Regions from separate parts of the Homo sapiens genome. Here all the other regions are linked to region 1. Evidence: fine-mapped expression QTL. A gene starts in region 1. Each other region holds a variant in brackets. All regions are shown on one strand. Distances are from middle to middle. Region 1 holds the start of CYBRD1 (cytochrome b reductase 1). Region 2 overlaps METTL8 (methyltransferase 8, tRNA N3-cytidine). Region 3 has its middle 53 kb from the start of DYNC1I2. Region 4 overlaps METTL8 (methyltransferase 8, tRNA N3-cytidine). Region 5 has its middle 46 kb from the start of CYBRD1. Region 6 overlaps DYNC1I2 (dynein cytoplasmic 1 intermediate chain 2). Region 7 has its middle 55 kb from the start of DLX2-DT.

Evidence for each region. PIP is the estimated chance that this variant, and not a neighbour inherited with it, causes the effect.
Region 2: its variant is fine-mapped to the expression of CYBRD1 in whole blood (TOPMed, PIP above 0.99).
Region 3: its variant is fine-mapped to the expression of CYBRD1 in whole blood (TOPMed, PIP above 0.99).
Region 4: its variant is fine-mapped to the expression of CYBRD1 in whole blood (TOPMed, PIP 0.99).
Region 5: its variant is fine-mapped to the expression of CYBRD1 in whole blood (INTERVAL, PIP 0.96).
Region 6: its variant is fine-mapped to the expression of CYBRD1 in whole blood (INTERVAL, PIP above 0.99).
Region 7: its variant is fine-mapped to the expression of CYBRD1 in hippocampus (GTEx, PIP 0.95).

What each region holds. Positions count from the first base shown.
Region 1 is chr2:171,520,355-171,524,423 of GRCh38, reverse strand. CYBRD1 (cytochrome b reductase 1) reads right to left here and starts at 1,950. Exons shown (of 4, transcript NM_024843.4): 1 at 1,686-1,950. The coding sequence starts at 1,878. RefSeq lists silencers at 1,312-1,381, 1,532-1,641 and an enhancer at 1,752-1,861.
Region 2 is chr2:171,412,053-171,416,121 of GRCh38, reverse strand. The region is part of intron 1 of METTL8 (methyltransferase 8, tRNA N3-cytidine); the gene reads left to right. Among named protein-coding and RNA genes, the nearest start is that of METTL8, 20 kb to the left of the region's middle. RefSeq lists an enhancer at 1-75. The variant C/T (reference allele first, on the strand shown) is at 1,750.
Region 3 is chr2:171,632,357-171,636,425 of GRCh38, reverse strand. No RefSeq gene overlaps it. Among named protein-coding and RNA genes, the nearest start is that of DYNC1I2, 53 kb to the left of the region's middle. The variant C/T (reference allele first, on the strand shown) is at 2,198.
Region 4 is chr2:171,394,718-171,398,786 of GRCh38, reverse strand. All of the region lies in intron 1 of METTL8 (methyltransferase 8, tRNA N3-cytidine), which reads left to right. Among named protein-coding and RNA genes, the nearest start is that of METTL8, 37 kb to the left of the region's middle. The variant G/A (reference allele first, on the strand shown) is at 1,664.
Region 5 is chr2:171,566,870-171,570,938 of GRCh38, reverse strand. No RefSeq gene overlaps it. Among named protein-coding and RNA genes, the nearest start is that of CYBRD1, 46 kb to the right of the region's middle. RefSeq lists a silencer at 2,861-3,032. The variant A/G (reference allele first, on the strand shown) is at 1,606.
Region 6 is chr2:171,707,777-171,711,845 of GRCh38, reverse strand. The region is part of intron 5 of DYNC1I2 (dynein cytoplasmic 1 intermediate chain 2); the gene reads right to left. Among named protein-coding and RNA genes, the nearest start is that of DYNC1I2, 22 kb to the right of the region's middle. The variant TATAC/C (reference allele first, on the strand shown) is at 1,727.
Region 7 is chr2:172,156,407-172,160,475 of GRCh38, reverse strand. No RefSeq gene overlaps it. Among named protein-coding and RNA genes, the nearest start is that of DLX2-DT, 55 kb to the right of the region's middle. The variant A/G (reference allele first, on the strand shown) is at 1,858.

The DNA.
Region 1 (4,069 bases):
AGAGTTGGGTAGAAGAGGAGACTGGCTCTACTCTTTGAGCAAACAAGGTGTAGACAGCTCGGGGCCAAACTTAAGGGCTCCACCACGAAGGAAAGAGTGCTTCTGACAGTTACTTTGGAACTTGAGTATGTTTTTTTCTTATAAGCATAGTGGCAAAATAACTGAGAGTTACGCAACGAAATGCCTTAGGTGCCCAGTGGTGCTCACACCCTGATGCCGATCTCACACCCTGATGCCGATCTCACACCAGGGAAGCCTTTGAATGCTGAGGGTTAGTAACACCTTCCACTACATTCCAGAGTGGGAGAATGCTGGCCACACTTGCCAAAGCTGCAGTACAAGTTTAAAACAACCAACAAAAACAAAAGCCAAAATCACTTTTCTTTAGGAATGAGGTCAGCACTCTTTTGCACACTCGTTTGTGGGGAGTTAAATATTTGGTGAAGAAAAGGCAGCCTGCCCGCAGGCAAAGCTAGAGATTTCGGCCAGTGGGCATATCTTTCCAAACCCTTGCTACTCCTCTCGATTATTTTCTGCGACATAACACCACTCCACCCCTTGCTGCCTTTCTCTAACTACTTTCTGAAGGCCGTGCCTTTGGGGAAGTGGTTACAAATAAATGGTGTTTGCGCCAAAAGCTAGAGGTTCCTCCAGCTACACGGCAAACCGAAGGAAGCAGTCAGGACATTGAGAGGCACTACACAATGACAACAAACATTGCCAGCGACTGCTGAGCCCCTCCCCCGCGCCAGCCTCAGCCCAGAGAATGCAGGCCCGGGGCTGGCTCGCCGCGGGCCAAACACGGACGCAGCTTGCGCCGGGGGCATCCCGAGCAGAGGCATCCCTCGGTGCCAGGCAGCCGCGGGCCCTCTCCGGGCATCTCCCACCCGGAGTGCTGGGCCAGTGCCCAATAGGAAGCCCCGCGGGGGAACTTTCGCCACTCTTCTGCCACATAAACAAGTCGGGCTCAAGACCGTCCAATGACTGGGCAGGGCGGCGAAACACACTTGGAAGTCCTGGCAGCTTCCCGGACTCGACTGAGTTTAACACTCTAGGAGGAGAGGAACCCAGGGCGGATGCTTCACTCGCCCCCCTTGGCCAGCCCCTTTACCCAGGGCCGAGGATGTTACAAATACGGGCAAATTCTCGCTCCGGCAATCTTTTCCCCGCTGCCTTCCCCTCCTCATCTGCAGCCTGGAAGCAAGTTCAGCAAAAGGCTGAGGCGAAAGTGTTTCCGCGCCCCCGATCGCGCAGGCTCGGTCCACAGGGGCGACTTTCCGGGGCGCGTGGGCTGCAGCGGCCCGACTGCGCGGCGCTCCGGCATCGCGCCCGGGCTCAAGTTTCTGGGTCTTGGAGGCCCCTCCAGTGCGTCCTAGCCAGTCGCCGCAAAGAGTTAACCAAGTGGGGCCGGCCCCGCTCCGCCGCCCCCAGCAGCGCGTCTCCACCGCGCACCCCCGGCCCCGCGCTCGCGGCGATCCTCCTGAACCGCAGCTCTGTCCCGCCCCAGAGCCAGCCAGCCTCCCTCCCGCCCAGCCGACTTGGCTTCCCGCGCGCTCCTCACCGCACTCCTCCGGGCCCCGCGATCCTCCAGCACTTCCTCAGCTGGAAGGGGCTTCACGGAGGACCCTCTGCCCCCGCCGTTCTCCCCGCTTTCCTCCCCGCACCCCCCCAGGAGGTGCCAGTACCGATGCCCTGGATGAAGACGAAGCCGGTGACCATGAGCACTGGGTGCCAGTTAAACTCTAGTGCGCTCCCATCCCAGCCAAGCCCCTCTCGGTAGTGGAGGACCCAGACGAGGGCGAAGATCACCGACAGGAAGCCGACGAGCAGTGCCGACCCCAGCAGCGCCAGGAAGCGCCAGTAGCCCTCCATGGCCATCAGCGCCCCATACTCCGCACCGCGGGGGCCACAAGAACTTGGAGAGGCGGCGGCAGCCCTCTGGGTAGTGGCCGGGCGGCGGGACCGGGGCGTCGACTTCTTGGGGCTGTCTCCGCCTGCGGGGAGGGACTTTCTGGGCTGCTGGCCCGGAATGTGGGGCCTCTTGGGGGTGGGGAGCTGGCCCCAACTCAGAAATGGGCCCCACCCCCGGGATCACGCGGCCGCCGAGGGCGCTCATTGCCTGGTGGCCTCACCCTCTCCCTCGTCCAGCATCCAAGCTCGCAGAGGGCTTCAGTAACAGACCTAGTTAGTTGCTCAAAGAGAAAATTCCGAGGATTTTATACTCACCACTTGCTTTTAACACTTCCCGTGTCTCGTCCTTATTTGTGGGGAGGTTGAGTAGGGCAGTGGTGCGCCCTCTTGGTTAAGAGAAGAGAGGGATCCGTTGGGTAGGGTTATGTGTGTGCTTTTAACTACTAACGAAGCCTCCTTAGCCACAGTGCTGGAGAATTGGCTGTCTCTGACATCAAAGGGTGTTAAGGAGGAACCTGTAAGGTGGTGTAAACTAAAAATAAAATCCTAAGCCCCTCACTGACTGAATGGACCTCCTTGGCCAAGCAGACCCCAGAAAAACCTTAAAGCTGAGTTTCTAGCTACAGCCGGAAGGGAAGTCTACCCCCTCCATTTTGGAATTTAGACTCAACAGCTGACTAGCATTAATGTTTAAAATAGAAATCATAAGGCGGACAGAACAGACTCTTTGTAGCAATAAGACATCAAATTATAAAAAGGACCTAAGTCACACACTCCTACACTTAAGAAATAAACTATGGTCTAACTGCCACAAAGGTTTTCTTTTCCTCTAGAGGCTAAACAAGCACTGGCTTGAGATAAGCAATATTAAAACAATTACAACTTAATCAGTTCACAGATGCTGACCAGCTGAACCCCTGTTGCACCAGCCAGAACTACAGCTTTCACTGGGCTGATTTCAGGAACTTTTTCATGATAAGAAGACCGACCATGGACCGGTTCTGGCCAGTGTACAGGGATTGTGCACTTGTATGCATTCACGTCCTGAAAAGACCTTTTGAAGTGTAGGTTTGAAGTAATACATTTAAATGTATTTGAAGTAATACAATTAAATGTTAAGTCTCCACCCCAAAGAGAACATGTTACATGCATGTTTGTTCAATATGCATGTGTAAGGACCACCTCCATTAATATTCATAGCTCCTCCTGTAACCTGTTACGTATGTATGTTTGGCCAAACTGTTCAGCATAAAGCTCCTACCCCAACCCCTCTGCCTTCCAAGTGCCTGTCTCTGGTCTTAGGCCAGAGGCTATGTTTATCAGCCTATGGAATGGCCTCCTTGCAGGCTATAACCTTTTATAAGAAATAAAGTCTCCTCTTTTTTCAAATTTATAATTTTTTGTTTTAAGTTAACAGTAAAGGCCAGGCGCAGTGCCTCACACCTGTAATCTTAGCACTTTGGGAGGCTAAGGCGGGCAGATCACTTGAGTCCAGGAGTTTGAGAACAGCCTGGGCAACAAGGTGAAACCCTGTCTCTACTGAAAATACAAATGCATGCACCTGTAGCCCCAGCTACTTGGGGGACTGAGGAAGGAGGATCACTTGAGCCCAGAAGGTCGAGGCTGCAGTGAGCTGAGGTTGCACCACTGCACTTCAGCTTGGGTGACAAAGTGAGACTCTGTCTCAAAAAAAAACAAAAAACAAAAAACAAAAAAAACCCAGTAAACCGGGTCCCCATGAGGTGTCTCACAGCTGTAATCCCAGGGCTTTGGGAGGTGGAGGCAAGAGAATCACTTGAGCTCAGGAGAGGTATGATCGCACCACTGCACTGCAGCCTGGTGACAGCTAGACTCTGTCTGGAAACAAAACAAAAACAGCATGGGCAGCGGTGGGCTTGGCCTTATCCTGCAATGAAACTACTTGCAGTTTGCTCTTGAGAGAGGGAAGACAGGAACCTCCTGGACCTGGACTTGCCGTTTAGTGTGACAAATGGATTTTCAAAGTGCCCGCCCACCCAAACCAATTTGAACCAAAGCCCCTCCTTGATGAAGTGAAGCTTGCTCCCTGCCCTCTTTCCAACATTATCCTCACCCTTCTCCACTGGACAAAAACAATGTCAGCATTATCTAATGCTATTATAAGAAAAAGGGTTCTGAC
Region 2 (4,069 bases), 110 kb after region 1:
TCATCAAATGGAAAGAGAGAGCAGCCATAATGTCAAACAACAGTGTAGCAAGTGCCTGCCATAGTTGATGAATAGGAGGTTTCTAGATAACTGGAATTCAGCATTCTAGCATGGGCTGTTGGTTTCCCACATTCTCCTGTTACCCTTTTCCTTTTCTAATAATTTCTTTCTACTTCCTGGTTCTTTGCTCCACCTTAATCAGCATCCATAATCATCTGCCTTACCCAGTCTGACAATTAGAGGTCTTTTAAGCAACTCTTCTCTGGACATTTACCCTTGGCTATTTGGGTCCAGAATCCAGCATTCTAGTGTTGCTGTCACCTACTGCCTATTATACCATCTTTTATTCCCTAGAGTGGATCCTCTACTCATGAGTATTATATAGAATTTGTATATTTAGTGATTTTAAAATATTTTTATATTTTCTAATTATAAAGGTAATTTGGGTTTACATAGAAAAAAGAATATTTTAGGCCAGGCGTGGTAGCTAATGCCTGTAATCCCAGCACTTTGGGAGGCCAAGGCGGGTGGATCACAAGGTCAGGAGTTCAAGACCAGCCTGGCCAACATGGTGAAACCCCACCTGTACTAAAAATACAAAAATTAGCCAGGCATGGTGACAGGGGCCTATAATCCCAGCTACTTGGGAGGCTGAGGCAGAGAATTGCTTGAACCCGGGTGGCAGAGGTTGCAGTGAGCCAAGATCGCGCCACTGCACTCCAGCCTGGGCAACAGAGTGAGACTCTGTCAAAAAAAAAAAAAAAAAAAAAAAGATTTCGAGATATATTAAGAAGAAAATGCAAGGAAGATCTGTGAGCCTTTCAATCAGTGACAACTGCTATAAATTCTACTAGACTTTCCCTATGCATATGCATGTTTCTTGGTATATAGACATTAATTTTTTAAGATGAGACCGTACTATAAATACTATCTTGTACCTGACTTTTTTTTTCTACCTAATAAATCATGGACATCTTTTCATACCATGTTAGTTCATTTTCATCCTGCTGATAAAGACATACCCCAGACTGGGTAATTTATAAAGAAAAAGAGGTTTAATGGACTCACAGTTTCATGTGGCTGGGGAGGCCTCACAATCATGGCAGAAGGCAAAAGGCACAGTTTACATGGCAGCAGGCAAGAGAGAGAATGTGAGCCAAGTGAAAGGGGTTTCCCCTTATAAAACCATCAGATCTCGTGAGACTTATTCACTACCACGAGAATAGTATGGGAGAAACCGCCCCCATGATTCATTTATCTCCCACCAGATGCCTCCCGCAACATGTGGGAATTATGAGAGCTACAATTCAAGATAAGATTTGGGTGGAGACACAGCCAAACCATATCACATACCAATAAATTTAGGGTTTTAGTAACCTTTTTTTTTTTTTTCAGAAACAGAGCCTCACTCTGTCACCTAGGCTGGAGTGCAGTGGTGCAATTATGGCTCACTGCAGTTTCAACCTCCCAGATTCCAGTCATCCTCCTGCCTCAGCCACCCAAGAAGCTGGGACCACAGGTACACACCACCATGCCCAGCTAATTTTTTAATTTTTTGTAGAGATGGGGGTCTCACTATGTTTCCCAGTCTGGTCTTTAACTCCTGGCCTCAAATGATCTGCCTGTCTTGGCCTCCCAAAGTCCTGGGATTACAGGTGTGAGCTACTGGGGCCAGCCTTTAGCAAGATGTTTTTTTTTTTTTTTGAGACGGAGTTTCGCTCTTGTTGCCCAGGCTGGAGTGCAGTGGTG[C/T]GATCTCAGCTCACCGCATCCTCCGCCTCCCGGGTTCAAGCAATTCTCCTGCCTCAGCCTCTCGAGTAGCTGGGATTACAGGCATGTACCACCACACCCAGCTAATTTCGTATTTTTAGTAGAAATGGGGTTTCTCCACGTTGGTCAGGCTGGTCTCAAACTCCCAGCCTCAGGTGATCCGCCCACCTTGGCCTCTCAAAGGGCTGGAATTACAGGGATGAGCCACTGTGCCTGGCTTTAGCAACATTTTTAAGCAGCTACATAATTTTCCTTTCTATGCATGTACAATAATTTAGTCAGTCTTCTAAAAATTAATATTTGTATTGTAGTTTTTCAGTGTAATATACAAATAATGCTATGACAAATCCTTAATATATTCTTCTGATTATATCCATAGGATATATTTTTAGAAACGAAATTTTCTTTCTAATTTTTTCTTTAAAATTTTCATATGTATTACCAAAGCCCCCTCAGGAAAGGTCTCTCAGTTCAGTGCCCCCTCAGTTTGCCAGAATGCCTGTTCCTGCACACCATTTATCACAGTGTTTTTACCTTCGCCAAAATGACAGAAGATTATTTTACTGTTTTCTGTGTGATGGGCTTTCCGCTATCCATATCACCCAGAAAATTAATCTAAGGCAGCGAGTCTCCAGCTTTTTGGTCTCAGGACCTCTAGACACTAAAAAATTATAAAGGCTCCAAAGAACATTTGTTTATGTGGCTTGTAGCTATGGATATTTACTACATTTGAAATGTAACCTAAGAAAAAATTAATTGTTTAAATATTTATTAAATCTTTTTTATCACAACACCTGTAAAAACTGCATTATTAAGTGATTTAAAAATAAGACTAATAAACCCATTGTATGTTATTATGGCATATTTTTATAAAAAATATTTTCCAAAAGAAAAATATTAGAAGAATGGCATTGTTTTACATTTTTTGCAAATCTCAATGTCTCACCTAAGAGATGACTGGATTCTTATATCTGTTTCTGCATTAAGTCTGTTGTGATATGTTGTTCTGGTTGATATATGTGAAGAAATCTGATCTCACACAGATATATTTTATAAGTGGTTAGAAAGGGGAGGAGTGCTTTGTCTCTTCAGATGAATATGGGTATTCTACTTTACTACTACACCAAATCCCAGTAAGTGGTAGTATCTTAAAGGTTAATTGCAATATTACAATTTGAAGCCTTGTCAGTGAATTTTTCATATTCTGCTACATTAAAATCCATTGGTCTGTCTTGTATTATACTTTGACTGGATCTTTAGCCCGTGCTTGATTTTGTATCATCTTATGTTGGTCATCTGGAAAATACTGGCTCATTGAGTTGTATAGGTCTTCCAAATGTTGACACATTTCATTTTATAGTGCCAAAAATATCTTGTTCTCATCTGAACAGTGTTTAAGAATTAGAAAGCTGTTAGGCTTATAGTGGTGAACACAGGTTTTCCAGAATTCTAATTTTTGCTTAAAAGCTTAAATTTTATCAAAGGCAACAAATGGTGTCAGTTGTTTTCTTGGCAGTCTTACTTCATTTATTTTTGAGAAAATACCAAAGTTAAAATGATGCTCTGTGAAAACAATTTTTATTGCTTCATCAAGGAAATGCTTACGTGAAACTGCCTTTTTTTTTTTTCTGTGAGTCCATAGTTGGTGAAGAAGACAGTGATCTTCTGTATAGTTTGATGCCACTGTTTTGATTTAGGCAAAGGTGCTAATGCTTTTATCCACATTGCCTGTGCACCATTGGTGCAAATGGCACTACAGTGTTTTTTTTTTTTAAGGCAAATAATATGTTGATATTATCATGAAAATAATTTTAGCCTTTTGAAGACTGCCTAAAGGGGGGTAGGGTTCCCCAGGAATTCGTGAACCATACTCTGAGAACTTCTAGTTTAAGATTCTCTTACCAGAGATTGATTTGGGAATAGTTTGTGACCAAATTCTGGCCAGTGAAATCTGAGAGCAAGTCTGGCTGGGAAGTTGTGGATAAGTTTCCTCCTCCCTAAAAAGAGACACAGAAAGAGATGGTCCTTTTCTTTTGCTGGATGTTGCCATGTCTGTGTGATGCTTGGGACTGCTGCAGCCATTTTGTAATTGACAGAGGGACTTAGCCTTAGGATGAAGGTGATGCTGCGGAGAGCAGGATGGAGAAATGGCAGGAACCTGGATCCTCGATGACATTGTAGAATAGCAGATGAAACCTTACCTGGAACTTGCCCAATCTTTGGGCTTTCAGTTATGACAGATATTATTTCCTTATCATTTAAGCCACTTTGAGTAGTGCCTTCTGTTATTTGCAGTCAAAAG
Region 3 (4,069 bases), 110 kb before region 1:
AGATGAGATTTTGGTGGGAATACAGAGCCAAACCATATTGATATAGTATACTAACATTTTTCGAAGACAGTAGATTTAGGTGATCCTCCCCCAACCACAAAAGTAACTAAATGAGATGATGGATATGTTAAATTGCTTACTTGTAGTAATTATTTTACTATGTATGTGTATATCAAAATATCATATTATACACTTAAATTTATATAATAAAAAACAAACAACACTGGGAGGCTGAGGTGGGCAGATCACGAGGTCAGGAGATTAAGACTATCCTGGCCAACACGGTGAAACCCTGTCTCTACTAAAAATACAAAAATTAGCTGGGTGTGGTGGTGTGTGCCTGTAATCCCAGCTACTCGGGAGGCTGAGGCAGGAGAATTGCTTGAACCAGGGAGGCAGAGTTTGCAGTGAACGGAGATTGTGCCACTGCACTGTAGCTTGGCGACAAAGTGAGACTCTGTCTCAAAAAAAAAAAAAAAAAAAGGACCACAGAATAATAATGATCTAAAATCCAGAGATTTTTAAAAACTAAATAACAGAACATATTATTGTGGTTTTTAAAATCCTTATAAAGTTCACACATAATCATGTAGATAATTCAAGCAACTAAGAAAAACGTGAATAAAAAAGTAAAAGTTATTTATTCACATTTCTTTTGGCCCAGAAGCAATAAGTGTGTTTTAGTAACAATGCTTTGAAGTCTTTCTCTACAAACACAAACACTTTTTTTATTTAAATGGTATTTTATATGCATATTGCTTATAGCAAGCTCTTTTTAGTTAATAGTGTAGCTTAGAGATCACTCCATGATAACAATTATATATATATGGAATATTTTTTTTGAGACAGAGTTTTGCTCTTGTTGACCAGGCTGGAGTGCAATAGCATGATCTCGGCTCACTGCAAGCTCCGCCCCCTAGGTTCAAGTGATTGTCCTTCCTCAGCCTCACAAGTAGCTGGGATTACAGGCATGCACCACCACGCCTAGCTAATTTTGTATTTTTAGTAGAGATGAGGTTTTACCTTGGTGGTCAGGTTAGTCTCAAACTCCTGACCTCAGGTGATCCACCTGCCTCAGCTTCCCAAACTGCGGGAATTACAGGTATAGGCCACCATGCCTGGCCTATATAGAATATTTTTAAAATGCGAGTTTAATATTCCATTAGATGGGGCTAGACATGGTGGCTCATGCATGCAATCCTAGAACTTTGGGAGGGCTGAGGCAGGCGGATCACTTGAAGCCAGGAGTTTGAGACCAGCCTGGCCAACATAGCGAAATGCCATCTCTACTAAAAATACAAAAAATTAGCTGGGCGGGGTGGTGTGTACCTGTAATTCCAGCTACTCCAGAGGCTGAGACATGAGAATTGCTTAAACTTGGGAGGTGGAGGTTGCAGTGAGCTGAGATTGCACCACTGCACGCCAGCCTGAGTGACAGAGGAAGACTGTGTCTTCAAAAAAAAAAAAAAAAAAAATTCCATTAGATGGATGCAGCATAACTTACTTAGGGAATTTTTCTTAGATTTAACATATTTAATATTTTTCTATTATAGATAACACATGGCAAAAAAAAACTTGTAGCTAAACCTTTGAACATTTTCTTATGTAAATCATAGGATAAATTGCTATACACTGTTTATGGAAATCTACAGTGCCTTTGAAAGTTTGTTGTTTCTGTTGAGGTATATCCATAGCATTGACATCTCCAAGAGAGAAATAATAAGTATAAAGTTCTTGGAACAAACTATTTTTTTCTCCACCTCTGCTGCATTCTTTTTCTGCTAACTACTTATCCTCTGCTTTTTCATCTTGCTCTTGGTTCCAACTGCACCATGGTCTCAGTGCAATATCCTAATTAATATCTGTGGATTGACTAGTTGACTGGCCTCTGTCAGATCAGGTTTCTGGCCCAATAAGCAGTGGTAAGAAAGAAGAGCACAATCCTATGCATGACCTACTCACTGCCCATTCATTAGAAGTGAGGGGATTCTTTTTTTTTATTTTAGAGAAGATTTTGCTATCTTGCCTAGGCTGGAATACAGAAATGCAATGGCTATTCAAAGATATGATCATAAGAACTGTAGCCTCAAACTTTTGGCCTCAAGGGGTCCTCCTGCCTTAGCCTTCCAAGTAGCTGGGAGGGACTACAGGTGCACACCACTGTACTCAGCTGAGTGGTGGCTTCTTTTATGGGTGA[C/T]TTAAAAAATTCAAAAGTATTTAGGAACCCAGGTTGTAAATCAGGAGGTGCTAAAATGATTTGAGGGATATTACAAACTGAACCAAGCCTTGGAAAAATGGTGATTAGCAAGAAACATGAGAGAGTGTTCCTGTATTAGTTAAGAAATGCAGGATTATAAGTGACAAGAACCAAATCAAAACCAGATCAAGTCAATGGTATTTATTGATTTTGACTGGAGTCAGTTTCCTAATTTGGGGAGACTAGGTTATTGGAAATCCAGAAATTAGTACATGTTGGCAAGATTTCAGATTAAGGAAGCCAATGCCTGAAGTTCTCATGGAGACCTAGAATGCTAAAATCATTCCAAAAGGAGACAGGAGGGAAAGGACAAAGGGGACAGAGAGGGAGAGGGAAGGAGGAAGGGGGAAAGAAAGAGAAAGAGAGAGAGGAAGGAAGAGGAGGGAGAAGGGTGGAAGAGAGGAAAAGGCAAAGAAAAGGAAGGAAGGAAGGAAGGAATCACTTATAAACTTTACTTGCTAGTGGAGATTTCCTTGAGTCACACCATATGCAATTCCTTATTCTGAAATCTGAGGGGTCCTTAAAGGGTGTTGGGCCTGCAGGTGCAGACTATGGTGAACAGCTGGGGTGAGGCTGGGTAGTCAGGGAATAAGAATTGAATGGATGTGAAGTTTGTGTATCAGATAATATTCATGCAAATAATTTCAATTTGGAAAAATCTGAGGTCATGATGCAATTTGCCCTTTTCAGTCCCAGATTTCTTCTGGGTTCTATGTTTGTGGCCTAGGACTACTTTTCAAGTTTGAATGAGCCCTAAAGAAATTTGGAGACCATTCAGATTCCAAAAACAAACAAATGAATCTCTTGTCATTTAATGTAACTGTGACAGGATCTCACAGATGAAATGAATCTCAAGAATTTTATTTTTGAGGGCCCAAAGAGAGCTTGGTAAATGTACAATGAGATGTAAGGAAGAGGGAAAGTCACTGAAGTTCTTCAGACATTATGGTTACCAATTATATTAAATTGGTCAGGGTGTTGGGTGTTTGCTGGAGTGAAAAGCATATTTGTTATTTTGTTATCATGATATTAAGAAAATTCACTTTTTTTTGAGACAATCTCACTCTGTCACCTGGGCTGTATGTAGTGCAGTGGTGCAATCACAGCTCATTGCAGCCTCAGTCTCCTAGGCTCAAGAGATCCTCCCACATCAGCCTCCTGAGTAGCTAGGACTACAGGTGTGCACCATCACACCCAGATAATATTTTTAATTTTTATTGGAGATGTGGTCTTGCTGTGTTGCCCAGGTTGGTCTTGAACCCCTGGCTTTAAGCAATCTTCCCACCTTGGCCTCCCAAAGTGCTGGGATTATAGGCATGAGCTACCATGCCCAGCCAGAAAATTCACTTTTAATAATATTGAGATTCAAGGTTTGGATACAAAACAAGATAGAATCATCTAAAGAATTATAACATTTTACTCTAACACTTCTTCCAGTGTTAATTTTACTGGAAAACTTGCCTCAACACCCAAAACTAGATGTTAATGGGGAAAATATTTATAACTATTTATTGATGGTATAAACCAAAAAGTATCTGAGACAGGTCTCAATCAGCTTAGAGGTTTATTTTGCTGAAGTTGAGGACACACCCAGGAAAAAGAGACACAAGCCACGGTAGGATCTGCAGCCCATACTTTTTCTGAAGACCAACCTTCCTTCCTTCCTTCCTTTCTTCCTTCCTTCCTTCCTTCTGATTCTCATTCTGTCATCCAGGCTGGAGTTTAATGGCGCAACCTCAGCTCACTTCAACCTCCGCCTCTTGGGTTCAACATCTGCCTCGCCAGTTCAAGCAATTCTCCTGCCTCAGCCTC
Region 4 (4,069 bases), 130 kb after region 1:
CATATACACAGTGAAGTGGTTGCCATAGGCAAGCAGATTAACAATTGTATCTTCTCACATAGTTACCTTTGTGTGTATGTGTGGCAAGTGTACCTGAAATCTACTCTTTCAGCAAAAGTCCCAAATATAATACAATATTATTAACTGTAGTCCTCGTATTGTACATTAGATCTGTAGACGTGTTCATCCTACATATCTGCAACTTTGTATCCTTTGATCTACGTCTCCCCGTTTCCTCTCGCCCCTCCCCTATCCATTAAAAACTTAATTCCCCATTCCCCCTTCCCCAACCTCTGCCAAACACCACTCCACTTCCTGTCTCTATCGGTTTGACTACTCTAGGAACCTCATATAAGAGGAATCATACAATATCTATCCTTTTATGACTAGCTTATTTCACTTAGCATAATATCTTTAAGATTCATCCATGGTTGTACCATGTGTCAAAATTTCCTTTCTTTTTAAGGCTGGATAATGTTCCATTGTACATATATATGTATGTATGTATCACATTTTGTTTATCCATTTATCTTCAATGGACACGTGGGTTGCTTCTACCTTTTGTCTATTGTGAATGATGTTGCTATGAATATGGGTGTACAAATATCTCTTTGGTCTCTGCTTTCACTTCTTTTGGGTATATACCCAGAAGTAGAATTGCTGAATCATATGGTAATTGTATGTTTAATTTCTGAGGATTCACCATAATGTTTTTTCATAGCTGCTGTATCATTTTATGTTCCAATAGCAATGAATAAGGGCTCCAATTTCCTAATTTCTCCACATCCTCACCAATACTTGTTATATTCTGGGTTGTTGTTGCTGTTTTTAAATACCAGCCATCCTATTAGGTGTGCTGTTTGTTTTGATTTTAATTACAAATGTAATTAATAAATTTAGGGCTATTCAGATTTTCTCTTGTGTTATTTTGTTATTATTGGTAAGTTATGGTTTTCAAGGACTTTGTCCCATCTAATGAATGCAATAAAATTGTCCATAATATCCCAGTATTAGCTTTTCAATGTCTGTAAGGTCTGTGGTGATATCTCATTTTTCATTCCTATTATTGGAAGTTTGTGTTTTGTGAAACACATGTTTGATATCAGTCTTGCCAGAAGTTTATCAGTTTTATTAATCTTTCCAAAGAACTAACTTTTGACTTTGATTTTTCCCTGCTTTGCTCATTTTCCCTCCTTCCCTCTCTCTCTCTCTTTTTTTTTTTTTTTTTTTTTTGAGGCAGGGTTTTGCTCTGTCGCCCAGAATGCAGTGCAATAGCATGATCATAGTTCACTGCAGCCTTGAACTCCTGAACTCAAGTGATCCTCCCTCGTTGGCCTCCCAAGTAGCTGGGACTACAGGCACTGGCTAATTTTGTTTGTTTGAAGTTTTTTGTTGTTGTTGATGTTGTTTTTTTTTTTTTTTTTTTTTTTTTTTAGAGACAGGGTCTCACTATTTTGCCTAGGCTAGTCTCAAAGTCTTGGCCTCAAGCCATCTGCCCACCTTGACCTCCCTCCCAAAGCTCTGAGATTACAGACGTGAACTACCATGCCTGGCCCTGTTTTCTATTTCATTGCTTTCTGTTTTTATTTTTTATTATTTCCTTCTTTCTACTTACTTTGGGTCTAATTTATTCTTATTTTTCTAGCTTGTGAAGATAGAAGCT[G/A]AGGCCAGGCAAGATGGCTGATGCCTGTAATCCCAGCACTTTGGGAGGCTGAGGTGGGAGGATCCCTTGAGCCTAGGAGTTCAAGACTAGCCTGGGCAACATAGGGAGACCCTCTCTTAAAAAAAAAAAAAAAGTAGCCAGGTGTGGTGGTACATGCCTGTAGTACCAGCTACTTGGGAGGCCAAAGCAGGCCTATGAGCTATGATCGTGCCATTGCACTCTAGTCTGGGTGATAGAACAAGACCTTGTCTCAAAAAAGAAAAAAAAAAAAAGATAGAAGCTGAGATTATTGATTTGACATCTTTCTCTTTTGTAATAAAAATATGTAAAACTATAAATTTCTCTCTATACACTGCTTTAGTTGCATCCCATACATTTTGATATTTTCAGATTTTGTTATCATTCAGTTCAACATATTTTCTAATTTCTCTTCAGATTTGTTCTTTTACTCATAGGTTATTTATAGCTGTGTTGCTTAATTCCTTAACATTTGGAAATTTTTGTAGCTATCTTATTATTATTTTGAATTTGGATACAAAAGCAAGGATTGACAATATGCTGCCTATTAGAAAAGCACTGCCTATTAGAAAAGCACACAAATAGACTAAAATTTTTTTAAAAGATACACAGCATGCCATACATGACATTACATTAGACAATTGGTAGGGCTGTATTAATATCAGACAAAGTAGACCTCAAGAAAATGACTGTTACCAGAGATAAGAAGGGACATTTATTAATACAAGTTAATTCATCAAAATATTAACATTTAATATTATTATAGTCAAAAAGCACACTCTGTATGATTTTAATACTTTGGGATTTATTTTTATTTATTTATTTATTTATTTATTTATTCATTGAGACAGAGTCCCACTCTGTCACCCAGGCTGGAGTGCAGTGGCACAATCTCGGCTCACTGCAACCTCCGCCTCCTGGGTTCAAGTGATTCTTGTGCCTCAGCTGATTATAGGCACCCGCCACCATACCCAGCTAATTTTTTTTTGGATTTTTAGTAGAGATGGGGTTTCACCATGTTGGCCAGGCTGGTCTCAAACTCCTGACCTCAGGTGATCTGCCCGCCTCGGACTCCCAAAGTGCTGGTATTACAGGCATGAGCCACTGTGCCTGGCCAGCCAAATTTATCTATTTATTGAGACTTGTTTTATAGCCCAGCGTATGGTCTACCTTGGTGAATGTTCCATGTTCATTTGAAAAGAATGTGTATTCTTGCTATTGCTGTATGATGTTCTTTCTATAAATGTCATCTAGGTCAAGTTAATAATGTTCAAATCTTCTTTATCCTTTTTGATTTTTAGATAGCTTGTCGCTGGTTATTTTTCTATTTATTACTGGAAAAGGGTTGTTAAAATCTCCAAGTATTACTGTGAATTTGTTAAGTTCTCCTTTTAGAAAGTTCTGTCTTTTTGCTTTATTTATTTTACAGCTTTGTTATTAGGTACATGCATAGTTAAGACTGCTATGTTGTCTTGATGAATTGGCTTATTATCATTATTAAATGCCCCTCTTTATCTCTATAATAGTCTTTTCATTGAAGTCTACTTTGTCTATTAATATAGCCCCACCAGCTTTCTTATGCAGTGTTTGCATAGTATACCTTTTTTTACGTTAATCTATTTGTTTCTTTATATTTAAAGTGCTTGCCTTATAAACAGTATATTGCTGGGTCTTACTTTTTTTAATCCAAGTTAATAATCTGCTTTTTAATTGGAGCCCATTTATATTTATTGTAAGTATTGATATGGTTGGGTTTACATATGCTATCTTGGTATTTGTTTTCTATTTGTCCTATTTGTTTTTCATTCCTCTGTTCTTCCTTTCTTGCCTTCTTTTGGATGAATGGAATATTTTAAACTGTACCTCTTTGTGTTGTTTCAAATAAAAATACTACTTATTCACACAGTTTTGTTGTGCAATTATCTGAGTTAAACTGGTATTCAAATTAGAGTATGCCAAAAGAGAGCTAAGAGAAGGTACATAAAGGGATTGGGTCATTCTGGTGGCAGAAACCTACTTTTTCTACCACAATTTTATTTGGGGCTGGCCCTGCCCTTCTTTTCCCACAAAATTGAACCATGACCAGCAAACCTTAGGCTAACGTGGTAGTAATAATACAAAGCACATATTTGTTAATCATCGTAGTTAATTTAATTGGATAGCTACCTGTACATTGTCACATTCTTCTATCACTTCCTTCGCACTGCAAGGATCTTAATTAGGATCCACCCTGGAAAATATGAAGTAACTTCCATCCAATTAGATTTATGTCAGACAAATACCATTTTTATGTAATCAGTCAAACAATTCATGAGCAGCCTGGTGCTGCCTCTAGAAGCTTGCAATTTAAGTAAGAAGGCATTTATATAATTTTATTATGTATTTATA
Region 5 (4,069 bases), 47 kb before region 1:
TGCAGTAGCATGATCATGGCTCACTGCAACCTCAACCACCTCGGCTCAGCAATCCTCCCACCTCAACCTCCCAAGTGGCTGGAACCACAGGTATGTGCCACTGCACCCTGCTAATTTTTTAATTTTTATAGAGATGGGATCTCACTGTGTTGCTGAGGCTGGTCTTGGTCTCAAACGATCCCATCTCAGTTTCCTGAAGTGCTGGGATTATAGGTATCAGCCACTGTACCTGACCGATAATGTGGATATTCTGAGTAGGCATTTGCATATCAATATCTGGTTACCTGTTGCTGCATAACAAATCACTCTAAACTTTGTTCCTTAACATAATGACTGCATTTATTTTGCTCATTAATTTGTAATTTGGGCAGGGCTTGAGAAGGACAGTTTGTCTTTGCTTCTCTTGGCATCAGCAGGGGTGATTTGAGGCTGGTGGCTGGAATCATCTGAAATCTCACAGGTCAGCTAGTTGGTGCTGGGAGCTCAGCAGGGCCTATGGCCACAGCCCCTCCACTTGACCTTTCCATGGGGCTCCTTGGCTTTTTCACACAGTGCTGGCTGGGTTCCGAAGGTAAACATCCCCAGAGAGAAGAGAAGAAGGCAAAAGCTGTGTCCCCTTTGGTGACCTCCTCGGAGAAATCTTACAGATTCACTTCTGCCATATTTTATGGGTTAAAAGTTAGTTGCTGAGGCCAGCCACGATTCAAGGGAAGGGGAATTAGGCTCTACCTTCTGCTGAGAAGAATATCATAGAATTTGTGGACATATTTTAAAATCATCACAATTTGCCCGTTGGACATACATTACCTACATTTTCCCCTACATGCAAAGTAGACTCACTCCCCTGCCCTAAACCCCTTAAACATTGTATCTCCTGTAGCATCAGGCTGGGGCTCAAGGTCCATGATCTTGACATATAAATCAGGTGCAGGAGTGGCTGAGGCTCCTTGGGTGCTGTTCCTGGAGTAGAGCCCCTGCAGTGCAGTTCCTCTCCACCTGAAGACTTGGGAATCAAAGGACAAGCTGCCTCTCTGCTCACTGCACCCAATATATTGTACAATAGTGGAGCAAGCACAGGATAATCGCTGCAGACGCTTCTGTTCAAAAAGGGGGGAAATGGGAGGCACACAGCAGCCACTGGCGCACAGCGATTCTGAAATCCAGCTGAGCGTATGTTGCCAGTTCCTTGATAGGGCTTGGTCCTACACCTGGAAGTTGTCCACCTTGCTTTTGGCTCCACCCACTGCACTCTCGGTCCCACCTTCTGAGCCATTCTTTCTTTTCCATTAAAAGTAGCCCATGTTGGGCTGGGTGCAATGGCTCACATCTGTAATCCCAGCACTTTGGGAGGCCTAGGTGGGCAGATCACCTGGGGTCTGGAGTTCCAGACCAGCATAACCAACATGGAGAAACCCTGTCTCTGCTAAAAATACAAAATTAGCCAGGTGTGGTGGCGCGTACCTGTAGTCCCAGCTACTCGGGAGGCTGAGGTAGGAGAATCTCGCTTGAACCTGGGAGGTGGAGGTTGCAGGTGTGCCGAGATCACACCATGCCACTCCAGCCTGGGCAACAAGAGCGAAACTCCATCTCAAAAAAACAAAAAAA[A/G]GAAAAAAAAAAAGTAGCCCATGTTTGCAGCTGAGTGACAGTCTTTTTAGATTGCTTCCTGCTCTTAGAAGCCTGGAATCCAAAGGCCTGAATGTCCCTTTCACTCCAAGCTAATTCTAATTCTTTTAAAATATGTATATATAGTCTTCTTATTAATCAATTTATAACTAACTCCATTAGGCAAAACCCATACCAATAAATCTCCTTTAGCCCTTCTCTCCCTTCTCCTAAAGCTGCGGTCCAATAATTCCCTTGAGATCTGTAGGCCTTTCAAGCCAGCAATGGTGTGTTGAAAACAAATAAAGAAGGAACAAACAAACAAACAAAAAAGTTGCTAGGCCTTTTGTCTGCTTGAAAGGGCCTATGAAACAACACCTTATGGACTTTCTGAGGTCTCAGCAAAGAGTCTTATAGTCATGCCCAAAAATAAACTCACTTTATTTTTGAACCATATTTTTCTTTATTTTTTTTTTTCCCGAGACAGGGTCTCATTCTGTCACCTAGGCTGGAGTGCAGTGGTGCTACCTCCTCTCATTGCAACCTCCACCTCCCGGGTTCAAGCGATTCTCCTACCTCAGCCTCCCGAGTAGCTGGTACTACAGGTGCACACCACCACACCTGGCTAATTTTTGTTAGTAGGAACAGGGTTTCTCCATGTTGGCCAGGCTGGTCTCGAACTCCTGATCTCAGGTGATCCACCCACCTCAGCCTCCCAAAGTGCTGGGATTATAGGCGAAAGCCACCTCACCCAGCCCTCAAATTGTAGATTCATGAATAAATAGATGTTGTTACTGTTTTAATTTATTAAATTTTGGGGTGGTTTGTTATGCAGCAATAGATAACTGGAACAGAGTTTGGTAGCACAGCAAAAACTGCTAACGTGTGGCAATGGCTTCAGGACTGGGTGGCAGGCAGAATTTGAGAGTCTTCAAGAGACTGTTAGTGGAAACCTCATGGTTCTTGAAGAAGTTATTGGTTAGGGCTTATGGGAAAGCGAGGAAAATGTTACTGAGAGCTGTCATATAGCAGCAAAAAGTTTAGCAACACTGTCACCTGTGGTAACATGGAGAATAGAAAATATACCAAGTTAACTGAACCGTCTATCTAAGGAGATTTTTGGGAAAAGTGTTGAAGAAGCTGCCTGGTTTTTCTCACTGAGTATAGTAAACTTCAAGAGAAAGAGAGAAGTGAAAGAGAACTGTGAAATATAGAGGGGCCAGGAATTGCTGGGTTTGAAAATAAAAGTTTCTCCTTTCTAGCTTCTTCATACGGCAAATGAAATGGCTTCCCGGTGAAGATTGAACCCAGGAGGCAGAGGTTGCAGTGTGGTGAGATTGTGCCACTGCACTCCAGCTTGGGCGACAGAGCAAGACTTCGTCTCCAAAAACAAAAAAAAAAAATTTGGAAAGAACTTAGAGGGGACGGTTTATCTCTGCTCAACTCAGTGTCAGCTGGGGTGGTTCAAAGATTGGGGGCTAGAATAAACTCAAAACTCACTCATTCACGTGTCCGGTTGGCTGATGTTGGCTGTTAGCTGGGAGCTCATGCAGAACTGTTGTCCAAATATCAACACGTGACTTTTCCATGTTGATCGGGTTTGGCTCTTTGTCCCCATCCAAACCTCATGTCAAATTGTAATCCCTATGTGTGGAGGGAGGGACCTGTAATCCCCATATGTTGAGGGAGGGAGGTGATTGGCTCATGGGGTTGGTTTCCCCCCATGCTGTTCTCATGATAGTGAGTGAGTTCTCATGAGATCTGATGGTTTTATAAGGGGCTTTTCTCCACTTTGCTTGGCACTTCTCTCTCCTGCTGCCATGTGAGGAAGGACGCGTTTGCTTCCCCTTCTGCCATGATTGCAAGTTTCCTGAGGCCTCCCCAGTCGTGTGAATTGTGAGTCAATTAAAACTCTTTCCTTTATAAATTACCCACTCTCAAATATTTATTTATAGCATGTGAAAATGGATTAATACACATGTAGTGTTTGATTTCCCCATCAAATGACAAGGTGGTTGGGTTCCCAGAGCAAGCATTGCACACGAGAGAGAGAGAGAGAGAGAGAGAGAGAGAGACAGCGAGCTAGGAAACCTAGTCCCTGAAGTCGCATAGTATTGTCTGCTGCCTTCCTGTTTTGTTTGTTTGTTTTAGAGATGGGGTCTTGCTCTGTTGCATAGGCTAGAGTGCAAGTGGCAGATCATAGCTCAGTGCAGTCTTGAATTCCTGGGCTCAAGCGATCTTCCCACCTAAGCCTCCTGAGTAGCTGGGACTACAGGTGTGTGCCACCATGCCTGGTTAATTTTTATTTTATTAGTAGAGATGGGGTCTTGCTATGTTGGCCAAGCTTGTCTTGAACTCCTGGCTTCAAACTTGGCCTCCCAAAGCGCTGGGATTACAGACACGAGCCACTGCACCAGTCTTGTCTTCGATTCTTTACAAGTGAGTCACTAAGCCTGGCCCATGTTTA
Region 6 (4,069 bases), 190 kb before region 1:
TTTGTCAAATATATTTTTCACTTATGTAAGACATTATAATTTATAACTAGTTTTAGTTGCTACAATGTTTTAATACAACAAATGGTTTCTCTACCTGCCTATATAATTTATCAAGAAAAATAGTAATGAATTAATCTAGAGAAATCCTTCATTTAAAAAATATAAAGAAAGATCTTGGAATTTAAACAAGGTTATGTGTATGCAATGTAAGAAGCAGCCACAGTGAAGATCTACTTTGTACTAAGCAATGAATAGCAACAAGCTTAGGCTTTGTTAAATCAAAAGTTCTATGAGATGGTCTCCAAGGAATGTTCTGTCATTTACATTATGTAAGAGCTCTGTTATCAATGACATAAAATTCCTTGTTGAGGATGTCATTTTAGTCTAAAATCAAGTAACACTGTACCTCAAAATACAGCCAGTACTGAAAATGCACTGGACATACCTGTACATTATTACATTTATTAGGGGCATCTTCAGGCACATAGAGTACAATTCCAAGTACAAAGCTTGAGAAGTAAACTGATCAAAAATGGAAAAATGGGCCAGGCACGGTGGCTCACACCGGTCATCCTGGCACTTTGGGAGGCCGAGGTGGGCAGATCACTTGAGGTCAGGAGTTCGAGACCAGCCTGGCCAACGCGATGAAACCCCATCTCTACTAAAAATCAAAAAGTAGCTGGAAACCATCATTCTCAGCAAACTATCACAAGGACAAAAAACCAAACACCGCATGTTCTCACTCACAGGTGGGAATTGAACAATGAGAACACTTGGACATAGGAAGGAGAACATCACATACCGGGGCCTGTCGTGGGGTGAGGGGAGGGGGGAGGGATAGCATTAGGAGACATACCTAATGTAAATGATGAGTTAATGAGTGCAGCACACCAACATGGCACAAGTATACATATGTAACAAACCTGCACATTGTGCACATGTACCCTAGAACTTAAAAGCATTAAAAAAAAAAAAAGTAGCTGGGTATGGTGACACACACCTGCAATCCCAGCTACTGGGGAGACTGAGGCAGGAGAGTTGCTTGAACCCAGGAGGCAGAGATTGAAGTGAGCCGAGATCACGCCATTGCACCCCAGCCCGGACAACAGAGCAAGACTCTGACTCAAAAAAGAAAAAAAAAAAAAAGGAAAAAAGGAACAAGAGGCCTGGATTACCCCACTGAATAATTGTTCCTAAATTTTTGAGATAACAAATGTAATGCAGCTTCCTAATCTGCAAAGTTAGAGAGAGATTATTTCTCACGACCTTTTATATTTATTCATAAATTACCACCAGTCCCAAAAGAAATTCTTGGCACTTAGAGTGATTCAAACATGTTTAGACAGCATATTTTATAATGTCTTATCTATTCCTACTCCCTGAGTGTATTAATCTTAGACCATCTTAGCCAACTGAAGTTGCACGTACAGGTGCATGCACACATCTCACATGTCTTCATGTATTTTCCTATTATATTTCTTCTAATTGTCTTTATTCTTACATTAACATCGTGTTTGCTCAATATGAGTTCATTAGGTTTCATTCTGAGACCTGGGCACTCTTTTTAAATGTCACATATTTAGAAATGCATTATTTCACTGCCAATATCACCATCACAATATTAATTACCTCTATGAAAGCTGGATATGATTTAGTAGAATTCATCATTTTCTATTACTCTGTGTGTGTGTGTGTGTGTGTGTGTGTGTGTGTGTGTGTGTGTATA[TATAC/C]ATAAAAATGAATATACTCAGCCCTCTTGAAAATTAATGTTTCCAAGTGAGTCTGTGCTCTCAAAGGAGACAACGTACATATTAAGGTTAAAAAGATGTGGCTGGGTGCGGTGGCTCAAGCCTGCTACCCCAGCACTTTGGGAGGCTGAGGTGGGTGGATCACCTGAGGTCAGGAGTTCGAGACCAGCCTGGCCAACATGGTGAAACCCTGTCTTTACTAAAAATACAAAATTAGCTGGGCGCGGTTGTGCATGCTTGTAATCCCAGTTACTTGGGAGGCTGAGGCAGGAGAATCGCTTGAACGTGGGAGGTGGAGGTTGCAGTGAGCCAAGATCGTGCCACTGCACTCCAGCCTGGGCAACAAGAAGGAAATGCCATCTCAAAGAAAAAAAGAAAGATGTAAGGTCACCTCACTCAAAAAGAGGATTTTTCTCTCCGTTAAACTCACAAGAAACCAATTTTGTATTCATTATCTAACAAGAACAAATACTTTAAAAAATATTAACTATTTGTTTTTGTGTTTTACAATTTATCATTAAAAAAACTATGCTTCACACTAAACATAGCACACTACCCTTAGGGCTTTCCAATAAAGTCAACAGTATCTTTAAATTAATGATGTAATCACTACAATGTAAATTCTATGAAAGCAAGGACCATGAATGTTTTATCTTCTGTGGTAAACCATAGTATTTTAATAAAGTTGGTAACTTAATATTTGTTCTATACATGAATAAATATTTTTCTTACCATTATTACTCCCTGTATTAATTTACAATATTCTAAAAGGTCTCTAATAATCTCTGGGTTGTCCATAAAACTCATGGGGACATGTTTTAATTCACATTAATTTAAAAAACTTAAGTGTCAAAGTACTTTTGAAAGCAAACTTGCTGACACTGAATTAAAATAATCTACTATTCAAAATCAGGAACGATGAGTCATAATGTACACAGTATAGTATCTACATAAAAATAATGTATAATATCAAATAAAGACATTTAATAAATATAGTAATTTTTAATCTTGGGAAACATTTTTACTATGGTAATGTTGTAGAAGGGAAAAAAAAACGCTTTCACTTAAAAATGCCAGTTGATTATTAATTGTCTAAAGGAATAGTGGCTGGGTGCAGTGGCTCATGCCTATAATCCCAGCACGTTCGGAGGCCAAGGTGGGTGGATCACTTGAGTCTGGGAATTCGAGTCCAGCCTGGGCAATATGGCAAAACCCTGTCTCTATAAAAAATACAAAAATTAGCCAGGCATGATGGTGCGTGCCTGCAGTCCCAGCTACTCGGGAGGCTGATGTGGGAGGATCGTTTGAGCCCAGGAGGCAGAGGTTGCAGTGAGCCAAGATTGCGCCACTGCCCTCCAGTCTGGGTGACAGAGACCCTGTCTGCAAAAAAAATAAAAAATAAAGGAATAATGACATATTTGTATAAAAATATAGAAGCACAAAATATGAAAAAAAATTTTAACCCTATAAAAATGAATTTACACTAGACAAATTGTCTTTATTCTGTAATGCATACTATTTTATAAGGTAATAACATTATTTCTAAAAAGAAAATTTTGATTTTCCTTAAATGAAAGAGTTATGTCATTTTCCTCCAAAGATAGTATAGCTTAGATTTGTGATTTTGGTTCTATTTGGAAAGCACTTCTCAAATTCAAGCTGGCAAGCTTTATGTGCCTTTTAATTGTTAATGATAACCTGATTATTCAAGAGCTGATTGAAGTATTGAGTTTACAGATCATCCAGCCACCTTGCTTTTTTTTTCTTGCCCTGTCTTTTAGATATTTATTACTGGTTTGTAACTTCAACTAGAGGGACTCAGGCATAAAAAGCTTAAAACTTCTAACAGCTTATGTCTTATTAAAAGGTGTGTTAAGAGATTTTCTTGGTGAGGACATGCAACTTCCTGGCCCAAAATAAGCATTCTTAATCAGCTGTGGATTTTGACTACCTATGTTTAATTTCATTTCAGAAGTCAAAAAGTACATTTAATACTCACTATTTTGTGTGTGTGTGTGTGTGTGTGTGTGAGAGAGACAAAGAGGAATAAGTAGTAATACTTTTCCCAATATGATCTTTGAAAGAAAGCTGAAATCTTACTGAACTTTTGAAAAGCAAGTCCCAACATGTATGCAGGATCCTAAAACAAACACGAAATGTAATTTTACAAGGAAGATGCAAGTTCAGGAATGCTTGACAGTAAACATTCTCAATGTTGTCCTTAGCAGTTATTCCTTACTCTTGACATTTTATGCATTATTATTCTCTATCTTAATTAGCAGAACTAATGACTTAATAGAACAGAATTGAACTGTTTAACA
Region 7 (4,069 bases), 640 kb before region 1:
CAAAATATATAAGGAACCCCTACAACTCAATAACACAAAAAGTAATTATGCAATTTAAAAATAGGCTAAGAACTTGAATAGACAGTTCTCCAAAGAAGATATACAAATGACCAACAGGCATATGAAAAAATGCTCATTGTCACTGAGGGCTGGGGTGCATGAGTAAGACCATGAGTAGAGTAATGGGGGCCAGATTTGAGCTGGGGTGAGGCCAGTGTCTAGGTCACAAAATAATCAAGGAAATGCCAATCAAAACCACAATGAGGTATCACATCACACCTATCAGAATGGCCATTATTAAAAAAAAAAAAAAGACAACTGTTGGCAAGGGTGTGGAGAAATTGGAATCCTTGAACACTGTTCATGAAAATGAAAAATGATGTAGCCACTGCTGAGGTGGTAGGATCCCTTGAGCCCAGGAGTTCGAGGCTAGCCTGGGCAATATAGCAAGAACTCATCTCTAAATAAATAAATAAAATGGTGCAGCCACTATGGAAAACAGTATGGAGGTTTCTCAAAAATCTAGAAATAGAATTACCAGATGATCCAGCAATCCATTTCTGGGTATATATCTGAAAAAAATGAGATCAGAATCTCAAAGACATATTAGCACTCTTATGTTCATTACAGCACTAGTCACAACAGCCAACAACCAAACCACCTTAATGTTCATCAACAGATGAGTGGATAAAGAAAATGTGGTATATATGAGCAATGTGATACTATTCAGCTTCAAAAAAGAGAAGAATCCCGCAATGTGTGACAACCGGATGAACTTTGTCATTATGCTAAGTGAAATAAGCCAGACACAGAAAGAAAAATATTGCAGGATCCCACTTAGATGAGATAATCTAAAATAGTCAAATTTGTTAGATAAAAGACTAGAATGGTAGTTACCAGGGGCTGTAGGGAAGGGAAAATGGGGATGTATTAATCAATAGGCAAAAAGTTCAGTTAAGTAAGATGAATAAGCTCTGGAGATCTGCTATACTACATTGTACCTATAACCAACAATAATGCGTTACACATTTCTTAAACATGTGTTAAGAGGATAGATCTCACGTTAAAAGTTCTTACCAAAATAAAATTATATATATATGTTATTATAACTATTATTTTATCTATGGTAATATGTCATAAAAGCTAAGAACTGTATCTGAGACTAGTCTGCAGCTATTATTTTAAGCATTATCTATCAAAAACTTTCACCTAAAAAAACTTTTACAAAAGCAACAACAAAACTAAATGCACTCTTGTAAACTGACCTCAATGTGCCAGTGTGGGCCTCCACTTCAGGCTTCAAAAGCAAAGTATACTAGGATGTCAGCTCCATGAGAACACAGCCCTTGTCTGTCTTGTTCCCCATATATCTTCAGTGCCCCCAAACAGTGCCTGGTGCACAGTAATAATTGTTTATTGAGTTTCCCTGAGAGATCTGGATGCTGTAACCCAGGAAACAAGCAGTTACCCCAGTCAGAGTGAGGCTCTTGGGTTCAGGCACATGGGCTGGGATGAAAGAGACAGGGGAGGCAGTGGCCTACACTAGCTAAGACTTTCACACTAGCACATCCAAGAGGCACCACTCCATCAGCTTCAGGGCTTGGCAGATGAGAGGTCCCAAAGGAAGACACACAGTTGAGCCTTCCCCATGTCTGTCTGTCCTGGGCATACCCCTTTCCTGACCACAGGGAGCTACACACCTGCCCATCCTCTTGCCATACTGTTATTTATGGGCTATTTATCCATCTCTGGCTACAAGCTCTGCTTCCCCCATAATCACCAAATTTGGCAACTGGCCTTTGGACTGGTGCCTCAAGCCACTCCCACCTCCGGTTTCAGGAGAACCCCTTTGACTTA[A/G]TGACCTAGACAGTGGCCTCACCCAGCTCAAATCTGTCCCCATTACTCCATTCCTGTCTTACTCACAGACCCTCAGCCCTCAGATACCCCTCGCCTGGAGTAATCACACCAAAAGGTATGCACATCACTCAGTCCCCATCCATTTGTGCCACAGAGCAAAACAAAATAATATTCAGCCTTATTATCAAAGAGGTACAAGTCAAAAATGTAGTATTAGGTAAAGAGCCAGAATGGAGCGTGAGGTCATACAGTTTGAATCTAGCTGAATGGGTGACAGATAATGATCTTTCTGTTCTTCAGACAGGCATCCTGCTCCCCGTTTTCTTCTTCTAAATTCCCCTCTATTCCCTCTCTCAGTCATCCCTAAATCTCTTATCTCCTGCTGTCCTTTCAATATGTCTCCCAGTGTCTTCCATACCTCTTCTATTTCTCTTTTATCCTTATCTAACCAGTATAGAAAACTGATTACAATAAGTAGTGTAAATATTTCTTATGTATGACACTTTTTTTCATCCAATTTGGAATTATAAGGAGAGCATTTGTCAGGATTTAAAGGACAGACTTTCTACAAAATTCATGTTTCCATACTCCAGTTAAACTCTTCTCGAATGTCTAACTCCTGAATTATGGTGTCTATTATGGGTTGGATTTTATCCCCTAAAGAAATATGTTGAAATCCTGACCCCAGTACCTGTGAAAGTGACATTATTGGAAATACGGTCTGTGCAGGTGTAATCATGCTTTACAATGAGTTCATAATGGAATAGGCTGAGTCCTTAATATAATATGACTGGTATCCTCATAAGAGAGGAGAAGCACAGGGACACAGACACACAGGAAGAAGACAGCCATGTGACAATGGCAGCAGAGATTAGAGTGATGCATTTCCAAGTCAGAGAATGCCAAGCATTGCCAGCAAACACCAGAAACTAGAAGGGGCTAGGAAGGATTCTCCACTGCAGGTTTTAGAGGGTGCTAACACCTTGATTTTGGACTCTAGCCTCCAGAACTGTGAGATAATAAAATTCTGTTATTTTAAGCCACCCAATTTGTGGCTTTTTGTTACAGCAGCCCTAAGAAAGTGTCCCTCAGACACTTCTTTTATTTTTTATTTTTTATTTTTTTTGAGATGAAGTCTTGCTCTTGCCACCCAGGCTGGAGGGCAATGGCACAATCTCGGCTCACTGCAACCTCCGCCTCCCAGGTTCAAGCAATTCTCCTGCCTCAGCCTCCTGAGTAGCTGGGATTACAGGCATCTGCCACCATGCCCGGCTAATTTTTGTATTTTTAGTAGAAATGGGGTTTTGTATTTTTAGTAGAAATGGGGTTCCGCCATGTTGGCCGGGCTGGTCTCCAGCTCCTGATTTTGTGATCTGCCCACCTCAGCCCCCCAGAGTGCTAGGATTACAGGTGTAAGCCACCATGCCCGGCCCCTCAGACACTTCTTTAAAAAAAAAATTCTTGGGGCTTCTTTGAGAATTCTTATTATTGACCTTGGTTATTCATTCCTGATTTATCTAATTCTGAGATCAGAGAAGTTGATTATTTATATATCTCAGAAAAAACATGTAACTACAATTTATCGTTAAGTTGATTTTATTTTAACGTGAATGTCCCCCAGTAGCAATGCACTAGCACCTGAGCCATGGTTTATAAATGTCAGTCCCCCTAAGAATCCTTTGATGAAATCCTCATTCCAGGTCTGGAATGGAGAAAAAGTGAGCCTGGGACATTTTGTTGGACCAGAAAGCAATGAAGTGCTCAAAGACCAACCAAGACATGTCAAAAAATTACAGGAACCAGCTTGAAAGAGCTCCTGCTACCCTAACTTGGAAGAACTGGAGCAGCAAATAGAATAAAAGAACAATGATAGTAATGGATGATAACACAATGAATTGCCTAAAAAAATCCACAGTCCATGGTGATACTCAAAAGAAAGAGGGAAAAAGAGAGATCTGATAGAAATGTCAACTAATAAATGTGAAAGGAATGATAATATTAGAAAATGATCATTTTGAGATCACATTTCACATCACATCAAAGCTGTGGAATTTCCTCTCTTCTAGGGGGAGCCTTGTGAAGATAAATTTGGTTTAAGCTGGTGGAAGCCATGGATGTGGAACCCACAGAGATGGAGGGCCGACTGTATAAACAATTATTTTACCGAGTTTCCTATGAAGATGAACAAGGGAACTGACTTGTCAAAGCGCAC